Regions from separate parts of the Homo sapiens genome. Here regions 2 and 3 are each linked to region 1. The links come from fine-mapping of genetic effects on gene expression. A gene starts in region 1. Each other region holds a variant in brackets. All regions are shown on one strand. Distances are between the middles of the regions.

What was found. PIP is the estimated chance that this variant, and not a neighbour inherited with it, causes the effect. A credible set is the group of variants that fine-mapping cannot tell apart.
Region 2: its variant is the best candidate, but not a certain one, in a credible set for the expression of CLDN18 in thyroid (GTEx, PIP 0.72).
Region 3: its variant is the best candidate, but not a certain one, in a credible set for the expression of CLDN18 in esophagus muscle (GTEx, PIP 0.54).

The regions. Positions count from the first base shown.
Region 1 is chr3:138,008,315-138,012,553 of GRCh38, reverse strand. CLDN18 (claudin 18) reads right to left here and starts at 2,389. Exons shown (of 5, transcript NM_016369.4): 1 at 2,109-2,389. The coding sequence starts at 2,328.
Region 2 is chr3:138,114,039-138,118,277 of GRCh38, reverse strand. DZIP1L (DAZ interacting zinc finger protein 1 like) reads left to right here and starts at 2,670. Exons shown (of 16, transcript NM_173543.3): 1 at 2,670-2,950. RefSeq lists enhancers at 2,358-2,857, 2,858-3,359 and a silencer at 3,016-3,235. The variant T/A (reference allele first, on the strand shown) is at 2,614.
Region 3 is chr3:138,072,339-138,076,577 of GRCh38, reverse strand. All of the region lies in intron 11 of DZIP1L (DAZ interacting zinc finger protein 1 like), which reads left to right. Among named protein-coding and RNA genes, the nearest start is that of DZIP1L, 41 kb to the left of the region's middle. The variant G/A (reference allele first, on the strand shown) is at 2,006.

The sequences.
Region 1 (4,239 bases):
GGGGAATTCAGGGGAGCAGGAGCAATGGATGTCCAGGACCAAGTCCAAGGTATACTGAAAGGACAGAAGAAACAGGATGGGGGAGTAAGAGACTGCCAAGGAAGGTAGGTGAGGGGTTAGGAAGGCTTGGTGTCAGGCTGTTATGTGTGCACCTAGTTAAGCTGGGAATGGGGAACCGTGGAAGTTGTTTGGGTTTTGAAATGTCTAAGGAGATGAGAACTGAGAACTAGGAGTTGGTGACTGAAATACTCCCCTTCATCCTCTGCTATGGTCAAAAAAGCAAACATTCTATAGAGATGAAGGATAGAAACCAGACTGAGAAAGGTTAAGGGTGAGAGGTAGTGGAAAAACTTAGTCTTTTAATTTGGTTTGTCAGTGACCCAGGAGAGAGACAGAACTTGACAATGATCAGGATCAACAGATTTCCCCAGGAAGGAGGCCATATGCATAAGTGAGGAGAAGAGATGAAAGAGGCAAGGAGGAGAGGGGCTGACCAACAGGGCATGATCCCAGACAGGTGGCATGAGGCCTTCAGAGCCCTGCTGGGGAGGTTGACCTTAGCAGGAGAGGTTGACCTTAGCAGGAAAGCAGGGAAGATAATCTTGTTCCATCAAGGGGGAGAGGTGGAGCTATTCTGAGAGGGTGTCATGGAGATAAGATCCGTTGACAGAATAGGAGTGACAAGTCACAGTGGACGCAATGGGGTTTGCCCATTTAGGAGAGTGGGAATATTCAGGAGCCCCATGTATGGAGACTGTGATACACAGTGAGCAAGAGATTGATAATATGTAGTGGGGCCCTGGGGAGAGGTTATTGAACATGAAGTCATAAGACATCATGCCTTAATTTTGAATATGAGGACAATATTTTTTCTTTATATGATAGTTAAAATTAGACATAACTAGCAACTCAACACTCTGTGTGGCATTTCCTGCATCTCACCTCTCCCCTCCCACTACAGCATAATCCCTCCTCAGTCTGGTTCTCTTTCTTTTGGCCAGGTTCTACCTCCCTTGCTTCCCTAAGCAGGTCTTTCCCCGGAGTCAGTCATCCTGTTGGTCCTGCAATAAGTGGCTTCCAAAAAATGGAATAAATAATCAAATTCTTCTACTCTGACACCCATCTTCTATTTCTTTCTGAAAATGAACTTGGATTAGTTGAATTGCTTTTCACAATTCAATTCAGTTTCAAGGGCTCTACAGCCTCTTCACAATTTCTTGCAAATTTATTTCCATCTACTTGTTTATAAAAGGTATTTGTTTCAGAGACATTGTTCTCCTTTCTCCATCACACTCACATCTTGGCCACCCCTTAGAGCCACTAATTAGCTAGAGCTATTATTTTCTTGTTTGCATTTTAAAAATACAAATAGAGCTCCCATATTATTCAGAATGCAAAGTTGCTATGATGCATATTTGAAGTAATTATCTATATTAAAAGCAGGGGTTTAATTTATTTCATCTTTAGGGGTGAAAGGATGTCACATTTATAATTATATTTATATTCTGACATAATATAATTATAATTCTGTAATTATATTTTGATATACATTGATTTTTAGGACAGTATACAAGATATTCTTAATACAAATGCAGCAAAAGGATATTTATAATTTAATGGCAATATTCTTTTTGGCACCCACAGAGACTCCAACTTTGAAAAATTTAATTGAAATGGAAAGAAAATTAAATTAGCTCTCAATAAACTTTTCCAGATATAACAAAATACTCAGCATCCTGCTTCCCTGCTCCCATGTATGTGCAGGCAGGAGCAAGCCACATGCAAGTAATGCACACAATTTATTTTCTCCTTGAGAAACACGAGTTTATTCCAGGTATCATGAACATACCCTTACAATAGACCCATTCTTCTTGAGGCCTGCCTCCTCACTAGCGATTCCTTCGCCTTGAGTATTAACCCTCCCATTTTCTCCTGCATGACTGTTGCCCTATTAGACACGAGCCAGCTTCTCCTTTTATTCACACCTTTCATTCTGAGCCAGAGCTGCCAGGGTCCTCACCCAGAGGTGGGAGTGGGGCTTAACGCAAACGCCCCCTTCCCTGCTCACCTGGTTCACCTGGCTCTACCCCGGGGTGCACGGTGCCTACCTGGAAGTCCCAGGATGGTGAAATAGGGCCTGCATTCGGTGAAGCCTGAACTCTGCCTCACGCAGCTCCTCCAGAGCCCTTCGTACTGGAACACGGAGGTGACGGGGTTGTCGTACAGGTCCTGGGTGCTCCACATGTCCATCCCGGTGGCCGCGATGCAGCCGGCCAGCCCCAGGATGGACAGGAGGAACGCCACCACTTGGCATGTGGTGGTGGACATGATCCTGGCCGCCCGCCCTGCCGCCTGCGAGAAGCTGCCGCCCTCCTGCTGCCGAAGGTGTGAAGCTAACGCGCTCCTGAGGGGAGCTCTTCTAATCAGATGGTTTCCCTAGGCTCTCAGTATTTGCTCACAGTGTTTTCCTTAGATAGCTCAGTTTCGCTCCTGGTTCAAGGGCATTATTTTTACATTTGTTAGAGAAGCGGGCCCAAGAGGCACTTGTCTGCTCTCCGCAGGCCGGGTGGGTTCAGCGCAGAGCCGTGCCAGGGAGCAGAAGGACTCCCTGCTCCGGGCCAGACCGGCCTCCCTCCAGCTCCGGCTCCTCCGGAGAGCGCCGCCATCTGGAGAAAAGGCTGACGTGTCCCCACCACGGGGAACGTGACTGCAGACCACTTTGGCTGACCTCGCTTAAGATGGCCCCTGGGAAGCACCCACCGTGCTCTGTCTTAAACCAGACTTTTCACATTTTCTCCTCACAACTCATGAACGACTTTTTTCACTTACATCTTTCCATTTTGATCTTACAGAAATGGGTAGGGCAGGCACTATTATCCCCATTTTTTGGGGGTGAGTCAAGAAAAGTACAGATAAGTTAAGGGACTTGTCCCAGTGCCTGGAACCACAGATACTCTAAAAACGGCAGGGGTGGGGCTCCCACCTCAGCTTCCAGTCCAGCGCTCTTTCTCTGTTTCCATATGGAGCAGCAGGGGCAGGCAAAATTGTCCCCACTTTTGAGAACACGAAGCCAAATCCTAGATCTATGCTCTTGGTCCATAAGCATTGGAACTGGGATGAGAGGAAGCCAGGGACCCCGTTGATTTCCATGTCATGCTTTCACTCGTGCCACAAGAACCACATGAGGACTCTGTGGCTGACACAGGAGGTCCCACAAAGGCCAGAGGAGGGACCAGGGTTAGCTGGGCTGAAGTCCTTGGCCTGGTCACGGAGAGGCTTAGGATCTGCTCCTGATGCTGCCCCTAACTTGTCGTGTGCTGGGCAGGTTGGGGGCAAACTCCTAAGCCCTTGTAGGTCACAGGTTCTTCATCCACAACATGTGAGATCTAAACTAGAACACTCCAGAGCCTTTTCAGATCTCATACACTATCTTCTACATTTTGCAGAAAAGTTTTCACTAGAATTGGTCAAAATATTAGGAATTGTATAATCACAGTAGAGAGACTTGGCTGAAGACATCAGGTGTTATGTTTTGTCTATACAACTAAATTTTGCTAGAGAATTGGTTGACGGATATGGGGGCCAGGTATGTCTGGCCTCTGAATCCAGAGACTTTTTAAAAATTTTTTGAGATGGAGTCTTGCTCTGTTGCCCAGACTGGAGTGCAGTGTTGTCATCGGGGTCACTGCAAATTCTGCCTCCTGGGTTCAAGCAATTCTCATGCCTCAGCCTCCAGAGTATTTGGAACTATACATGCATACCACCACACCCGGCTAATTTTTATGTTTTTAGTAGAGACAGGGTTTCACCATGTTGCTTACGCTGGGCTCGAATTCCTGAGCTCAAGTGATCTGCTTATCTTGGCTTCCCAAAGTGCTGGGATTACAGGCGTGACTCACTGTGCCTGGCTTCCAGATATATTTTGTTTTTATTTATTTATTTATTTATTTTGAGAGGGAGTCTCACTCTGTCGCCCAGGCTGGAGTGCAGTGGCGCAATCTTGGCTCACTGCAACCTCCACCTCCTGGGTTCAAGCGATTCTCCTGCCTCAGCCTCCTGACTAGCTGAGATTACAGGCGCCTGCCACCACACCCAGCTAATTTTTGTATTTTAGTAGAGATGGGGTTTCACCATGTTGGTCAGGCTGGCCTCGAACTCCTGACCTCAAATGATCTGCCTGCCTCGGCCTCCCAAAGTGCCAGGATTGCAGGCGTGAGCCACTGTGCCCAGCCCTCCGGA
Region 2 (4,239 bases), 110 kb before region 1:
TCTTCTAGGTAGAGTTTACTTTTCCCATTTTACAGAGGAGAAAAATGAAAGGTCAGAGAGGCTACGTGACTTTCCCAGGGTTATGTAGCTTGGGAATGTGGAATGTAGATGTGTCTTTGACTCCCAAGGCCTGGACTCTTCTCTTTGCTCTTGTGGGTGGCAGAAAATCCTGGGGTGAAAAAAGTGCCCTGACTAGGAGAAGACGGCAGGAACAAGATCCCCCATCCGAATACATGGTGCACAGATATCCCAACTTAGTCCTGGTCCCTGCTCCATCCACTATTTTTTTTTAATGTTTAAAAAATTGTGATAAACTGTACATAATGTAAAATTTGCCATCGTAACCATTTTCAAGTGTACAATTCAGTGGCATTAAGTACATTCACATTATTGTGCAACCATCACTACCATTTATCTCTGGAACTTTTTCATCATTCCCAAACTGAGAATCTGTACTCATGAATCAATAACTACTCATTCCCCCTCCTCCAGCCACTGGTAACCACTATTCTACTTTCTGTCTCTGTGAATGGACTATTCTAGGTACAAGTGGAATCATACAATATTTCCAGGTATAAGTGGAATAATACAATATTTGTCCTTTTGTGTCCAGCTTATTTCATTTAGCATAATGCTTTTGCCTTGATCTGAATGTTTGTGTCCCTGCAAAATGGGGTTGAAATCCTGACCCCCAAGGTGACGGTATTGGGAGGTGGGGCCTTTGGGGGGTGGTTAGGTCATGAAGGTAGAGTCCTCATAATTGGGACTAGTGCCCTTATGAAAGAAACCCCAGAGAGCTAGCCAGCCCCCTTCTACTAAGTGAGGGTGCAGTGAGAAGATGACAGCCTATCAACCAGGAAACAGGCCCTCACCAGGCACCGAATCTGCCAATGTCTTGATTTTGGACTTCCCAGCCTCCAGAACTGTAAGAAAAAAACTTCTATTGTTTATATGCTACCCACTCAATGGTATTTTGTTATAGCAGCCTGAATAGACTAAGACAGTTTTCAAGGTTCATTCATGTGTCAGAATTTCCTTCCCTTTTAAAGTTAATATTACATTGTATGGATATACCACATTTTGCTTATCCATTAATCTGTCGATAGACATTTGAATTGTTTCCACTTTTTGGCTATTGTGAATAATGCTATTATGAACATGAGTATACAAATATCTGTTTGAATCCCTGCTTTCAGTTCTTTGGGGTATATACCCAGAAATGGAATTGTTGGATCTTTTGGCAATTCTTGTTTAATTTTTTGAGGAACTACCATTCTGTATCCACAGTAATGGTACCATTTTACATTCCCACCAGCAATGCACAGGAGTTCCAGTTTCCCTGCAAGTCCTTGACAACGCTTGTTCCCATACACATTTGCTTTGGCTGCCTCAAAATGTAGAGCTTGGCAGATTGAGATTGTGGTGGGACGAAAGCCTTTGAAATGGAAAAAAGAGAAAGAGGGAGGGAGAAGAGTTGCGGAGTGGAGAGAGAGAGAGTGTGTGTGAAAAGGAGCTTTTTTCCCACTCTTCCCTGACCCTCATGGGGGCTGCAGCGACTCCTAGAACCTTCAAGCAGCGAGACAGAGGTTCCCTCCACCAGGCGCAGAGCTCTCCTTACACCTGGCCTCCTATTCCCAGCAACTTTAAGGAGATATTTTTAAGTGGCCATGGTTTTATCAAATGCCTATTAAGTTTTTGCCACAAAAGGATTTTATTTAAAATAAAAATAGGGGTAGGTATTTGACTGATGCCCCTTGTGAGTGCTCTAGAGAAGAGGAATGAATACTGACATGTCCTATCTTCCCAGATGCAGAATTGTAAAACAAACATAACTGCTTTTCACATGTGAAAGAAAACTGGCTTAGAACATACTAGCGTTTTCTTTGCCATGAAGGAGTTCACCTTCAGTGACTAAGCCAGAACTACTAGAGTTGCCGGGCCTAGGGACAGGAGACATTGCCAGTGCTTAGCCAGGCTGGCCAGGACTAACCATCTCTGCAAGGAGTCCACAAGAAGCCTCAGGGCAGCCTTTCCCTGCTCCTATCAATTTGAGTTGAGCAACAAACATTTTGACCAAATATCAGCTCTATGGCACAACTCACAGTTACGGTGCCCACAAAACGGAATCTCAGCAAAGCAACTACTACTATGGGAAGAGATCAGGGACTAATATCAGGAGAAAAAATAAGTTTTTCAGTCCTGGGTTTCCAAGTTGGCATCCCCAGGGCAAACCAGCAGGTTGGGAGGGTAGGGGGTGGTGGGTGGGGGCTGCGGAGGGAAGGTGGCTGCTGTCTGTCTGATCAGACCTGGGGCACACCCAAAGAACTCTCCTAGCTTGGGATCCGGTCAGGAAGAAACCAGGACGGTCCCTTTAGGAGGGTGGGCAGGGCTATCTGCCCGGGGGGTGCGGCCGCCCCTGCACAGCAGGCTATCGATTGTACCGGAGGCAGGGTGTGGGGAAACCGGGGCAAGTCCAGCCTCTCAGCAAGGCCAGGAAGCCATTCACTTGGATCCTGGATTTTACTAACGGATTAAACGTGGCATTCCCGCCTTCCCCCATCCGTTACAGACCTAAAAATAGCTCGTCCGAGAGGGGCCGGGAGAGGCTCCACC[T/A]CTTCTTGAGGTGGGGCGGGGCGGCTGTAGTAGGAGCTGGAGGCACCAGAGACCCCAAGCCACGAGCTGACCGACGCACCGAGGAGCTCTCTGTCCGCGGTCCCGCAGGTTGGCGGCACTGGAGTGGGCCGGGCAGGCTCTGCCTCCGCCGCAGAGAGCGCCCGGACTGCGTGGGGCTGGGGAAGCATCCCGGGAACGGCGGGCGGTGAGCATTCCGGGAACCATCTCTGGGCTGTCTGGGGCGGTGGAGCAAGTCTGGAGGCGGGACGTGGGGCGAGTATGGGAGCCGCCACCTCGAGACGTCTTCCCGCCGTCCCCGGCTCCAGGAGACCCCACGGTGAGCGGGCCGCGCGGGAAAACTATGCCAGGAATTCGTCCCGGGAGCGGGGCGGGTGGGTAGCTTGGCTGCAGTCCGAGGGATCAGCGATTCGGGAGGTTAAACATTAGCGGGGGCGAACTCCCTGCCGGGGTGCAGCGGGGCGCGGGAGGAGCCGGCTGCGTGCGTCCGCGCTGCCCAGGGCGCGCCCTTCTGGCCCGGCGCGGCCCTGCAGCCCGGCCCCCTCGGCCTGCTCCGAACTGCGGCGCCCAGGGAGGGAAGGACCCGTGCGCGGGGGACGAATGACGGGATGCCCCAAGACTCGGCTTCACTGGGAAGACGGCCTTGGGTTTTTACTTTTTGAAAAAAGAAAAGTGATTTGGGAGGGCTTGATGATCTGAGTGCCGTAGGTAAAGGAGGATTCTTTTAGTAATGAGGTGATTTAAAAGCAATCGCATTGGCATCTTTCGTTCCCCTTCTTCCTTTCCTGGGCTGGACCTCAGCAGGAGGCAGACGTGGTATTTTCATCCTGAGGTGGCTGCGCATAAAGTCCACCGAAGACCTGCTCAGTGCAGGACAGGGATCAGGAGGCAGGGCAGAGGAGGGGGTCCGAGGCTGCCTGGGCAGGGCCTAGTTCACGGAGCACTTCCTAGGGGCCCAGGGCCTAGGCTGCCCCTGCCTGGTCTCCTGGAATTCGATTTCTAACAGGACTTTGGAGAGAGGCCTGGGAAGTATGGGGTGTTCTGACTTGGCTTCTCACACCCTCATCTGCAGATAGGGTGGGTGATCTCTCCCTTCTCAGTTGCAGCCCCTAGCACCTCTCCTCCCCCTCCCGGATGTGAGGACTGGCCAGTGAGAACAATCCTGCTTAGGGAAGGCTGATCCTCCAGTCTAGTGGCTGATAAGGGGCCTTCTGACTGTCTTGGTCAGACACCTCCCTCATCTGGGAATATTTTTTGATACTATCTAACTTGATAAAATACCTCATGAAGTTGTATGCTTCAGGTTGGGAACAGAAACCTGAGTTCATGTGGGCACCATAACTGTGGGTTGTGCCATGGAGCTGATATTTGGTCAAAGGTTTTTTGCTCAACTCAAATTGATAGGAGCAGGGAAAGGCTGCCCTGAGGCTTCTTGTGGACTCCTTGCAGAGATGGTTAGTCCTGGCCAGCCTGGCTAAGCACTGGCAATGTCTCCTGTCCCTAGGCCTGGCAGCTCTAGTAGTTCTGGCTTAGTCACTGAAGGTGAACTCCTTCATGGCAAAGAAAACGCTAGTATGTTCTAAGCCAGTTTTCTTTTACATGTGAAAA
Region 3 (4,239 bases), 64 kb before region 1:
CTGAGTAGTATTCCATGGTATGTATATATATCAGTTTCTTTATCCACTCATTGATTGATGGGCATTTAGGCTGGTTCCACATTTTTGCAATTGCAAATTGTGCTGCTATAAACATGCATGTGTAAGTATCTTTTTCATGTAATGACTTCTTTTCCTCAGTGTAGATACGCAGTAGTGGGATTGCTGGATCAAATGGTAGATCTCCTTTTAGCTCTTTAAGGAATCTCCACACTTTTCCATAGTGGTTGTACTAGTTTACATTCCCACCAACAGTGTAAAAGTGTTCCCTTTTCACCACATCCATGTCAACGTCTATTAATTTTTGATTTTTTGATTATGGCCATTCTTGTAGGGGTGAGGTGGTATCACATTGTGGTTTTGATTTGCATTTTCCTGGTAATTAGTGATGCTGACCATCCCCACTCTGGGAAGCTCCCTCCTCATTTAAGGACAGTCTGGAGTCCTTAGGACCTCCAGTGCTGCTACCCAAGGCTTCTGGGCCCACTCCTCAGCCACTCGTCCTGATCCATTGTCTCCTTGGGTTTGGATTATTCTTGTTTCTCCAGTTCCATGAGGTGTGACCTTAGATTATCTATTTGTGCTCTTTCAGCCTTTTTTTTTGAGACGAATCTCGCTCTGTCACCATGCTGGAGTGCAGTGGTGCGATCTCGGCTCACTGCAACCTCCGACTCCCTGGTTCAAGGGATTTTCCTGCCTTAGCTTCCTGAGTAGCTGGGATTACAGGCACGTGCCACCCCACCCAGTAGAGACGGGGTTTCACCATGTTTGCCAGGATGGTCTCGAATTCCTGATCCACCCACCTCGGCCTCCCAAGGTGCTGAGATTACAGGCGTGAGCCACCGCGCCAGGCCGCAGACTTTTTGATGTAAGCATTTAATGCCATGAACTTTCCTCTTAGCACTGCTCTTGCTGTATCCCAGAGGTTTTGATAGGTTGTGTCACTATTATCGTTCAGTCAAAGAACTTTTAAGTTTCCATCTTGATTTCGTTGTTGACCCAACGATTATTCAGGAACAGGTTATTTAATTTCCATGTATTTGCATGGTTTTGAGGGTTTCTTTTGGAGTTGATTTCCAATTTTATTCCACTGTGATCTGAGAGAGTGCTTGATATAATTTCGATTTTCTTAAGTTTACTGAGACTTGTTTTGTGGCCTATCATCTGGTCTATCTTGGAGAATGTTCCATGTGCTGATGAATAGAATATATATTCTGCAGTTGTTGGGTAGAATGTTCTGTAAATATCTGTTAAGTCTATTTGTTCTAGGTTATAGTTTAAGTCTATTGTTTCTTTGTTGACTTTCTGTCTTGATGACCTGTCTAGTACTGTCAGTGCAGTCTTGAAATCCCCCACTATTATTGTGTTGCTGTCTATCTCATTTCTTCGGTCTAGTAGCAATTGTATTATAAATTTGGAAACTCCAGTGTTAGGTGCATATATATTTAGAATTATGATATTTTCCTGTTAGACTAGTCCTTTTATCATTATGTAATGTCCCTGTTTGTCTTTTTTAACTGCTGTTGCTTTAAAGTTTGTTTTGTCTGCTATAAGAATAGCTACTCCTGCTCGCTTTTGGTATCCATTTGCATGGAATGTTTTTTTTCCGCCCCTTTACCTTAAGTTTGTGTGAGTCCTAATGTGAGTTTAGGTGAGTCTTCTGAAGACAGCAGAAACTTGGTTGGTGAATTCATATCCATTCTGCCATTCTGTATCTTTTAAGTGGAATATTTAGGCCATTTACATTCAATGTTAGTATTGAGAGGTGAGGTACTATTCTATTCATTGTGCTATTTGTTGCCTGAATACCTTGCCTTTTTTTTTTTTCGTGTATTATTGTTGTATAGGTCCTATGAGATTTATGCTTTAAGGAGGTTCTGTTTTGTTGTATTTCATGGATTTGTTTCTGTATACATGTGTAACAAACCTGCATGTTGTGCACATGTACCCTAAAACTTAAAGTATAATAAAAAAATAAATTAAAAAA[G/A]AAGATTTAGAGATCCTTTTAGCAGTTCTTGTAGTGCTGGCTTGGTAGTGGCGGATTCTCTCAGCATTTGTTTGTCTGGAAAAGACTGTATCTTTCTTTCATTTATGAAGCTTAGTTTCACTGGATACAAAATTCTTGGCTGATAATTGTTTTGTTTAAGGAAGCTAAAGAATAGGACCCCAATCCCTTCTAGCTTGTAGGGTTTCTGCTGAGAAATCTGCTGTTAATCTGAGAGGTGTTCCTTTATAGGTTACCTGGTGCTTTTGCCTCACAGCTCTTATGATTCTTTCCTTCATCTTGACTTTAGATAACCGGTTGACTATGTGCTTAGGTGATGATCTTTTTGCAATGAATTTCTCAGGTGTTCTTTGAGCTTCTTGTATTTGGATGCCTAGGTCTCTAGTAAGGCTGGGGAAGTTTTCCTCAATTATTCCCTCGAAGATGTTTTCAAGCTTTTAGATTTCTCTTCTTCCTTGGGAATAACAATTATTCTTAGGTTTGGATGTTTAACATGGTCCCAAGCTTCTTGGAGACTTTGTTCATTTTTTTAAAATTCTTTTTTGTCTTCTATGGATTGTGTTAATTCGAAAGCCTTGTCTTTGAGCTCTGAAGTTCTTTCTTCTGCTTGTTTGATTCTATTGCTGAGACTTTTCAGTGTATTTTGCATTTCTCTAAGTGTGTTTTTGATTTCCAGAAGTTGTGATAACTTTTTATTTATGCTATTTCACTAAAAAATTTTCCTTTCATCTCTTGTATAACATTTTTTGTTTCTTTAAGGTGGGCTTCACCTTTCTTTGGTCCCTCCTTGATTAGCTTAATAATTGACCTTCTGAATTCTTTTTCTGGCAATTCAGAGATTCGTCTTGGTTTGGATCCATTGCTGGTGAGCTGGTATGATTTTTGTGGGTGTTAAAGAACCTTGTCTTGTCATATTACCAGAATTGTTTTTCTGGCTCCTTCTCATTTGGGTAGACTATGTTAGAGGGAAGATCTGGGATTCAAGAGCTGCTGTTCAGATGCTTCTGTCCCATGGGGTGCTCCCTTGATGTAGTGCTCTCCCCCTTCCCCTAGGAATGGGGCTTCCTGAGAGCTGAACTGTAGTGATTGTTTTTGATCTTCTGGGTCTAGCCACCCAGTAGAGTTACAGGCTGGTACTGGGGAGTGTCTGCAAAGAGTCCTGTGATGTGATCCATCTTCAGGTCTTGCAGCCGTGGATACTATTCCAGCACCTGCTCCAGTGGAGGTAGTAGGGGAGTGAAGTGGACTCTTGAGGGTCCTTGTTTTTTCTTTTTGTTTGTTTAGTGCATTGGTTTTGTGTTTGTTGGCCTCCAGCTAGGAGGTGGTGCTTTCAAACTGTGGTCCTATAGGGAGGATGCATACTTCCCTACTTGCCCTAGGGACACCTGGTTAAGTATTCAGGTTTCTCAGGCGGTGGGCAGGGCCATACAGCTCCTAAGGGATTATGACCTTTGTCTTCAGCTACCAGGGCGGGTGCAGGAAGACCACCAGGTGGGGCCAGGGATAGACGTGTCTGAGCTCAGCCTCTCCTTGGGTGTGGCTTGCTGCAGCTACTGTTGGGGATGAGGGTGTGTTCCCAGTCCAATGGAGTTATATTCCCAGGGGGATTATGGCTGCCTCTGCTGAGTCATACAGGTCGCCAGGGAAGTGGGGGAAATCTGGCAGTCACAGGCCTCAGCCCATCTCCACGCAGCCTGCGGTCCTAAAGTCCGGTCTCACTCGCACTGTGCCCCACCAACAGGAGCAAGTCTATTTCCAAGCAGCCAGTGACCAGGGCTGGGAACTTGCCCCAGACCACAAACCTCCCCATTGAGAAAGCAAGCAGACTCAGGTTTTCGGCATCTCAGGGAGTCTGCAGCAGTGATCCAGTTCCTTTACAGGGTCTATGGATTCTCTCTCCAACTAGTATTTGAATGCCATTGTGCTTAACCAGAACACGTATGTTATTATTAGAAGCACCAATGAAATCTATTATTAAATAAAAACACACCTATTATTAAATTAGCCAAGCATTACACTATTGGAATGCTGTTTGTGTAGAGTAAGTTAGAAAAAAAAAATAGACAACTAGGGTTATTTTAGGAAGAATGGTCACTACTTTGATTGTTTTCAACTACTGACTACTCTAACTTTGGCCCTATATTCAGATTTGATTAAGACATTCCTTTCTAACCTTGCATGAATCCTCATCTTGGATTCAGATGCCTCCCTGGACC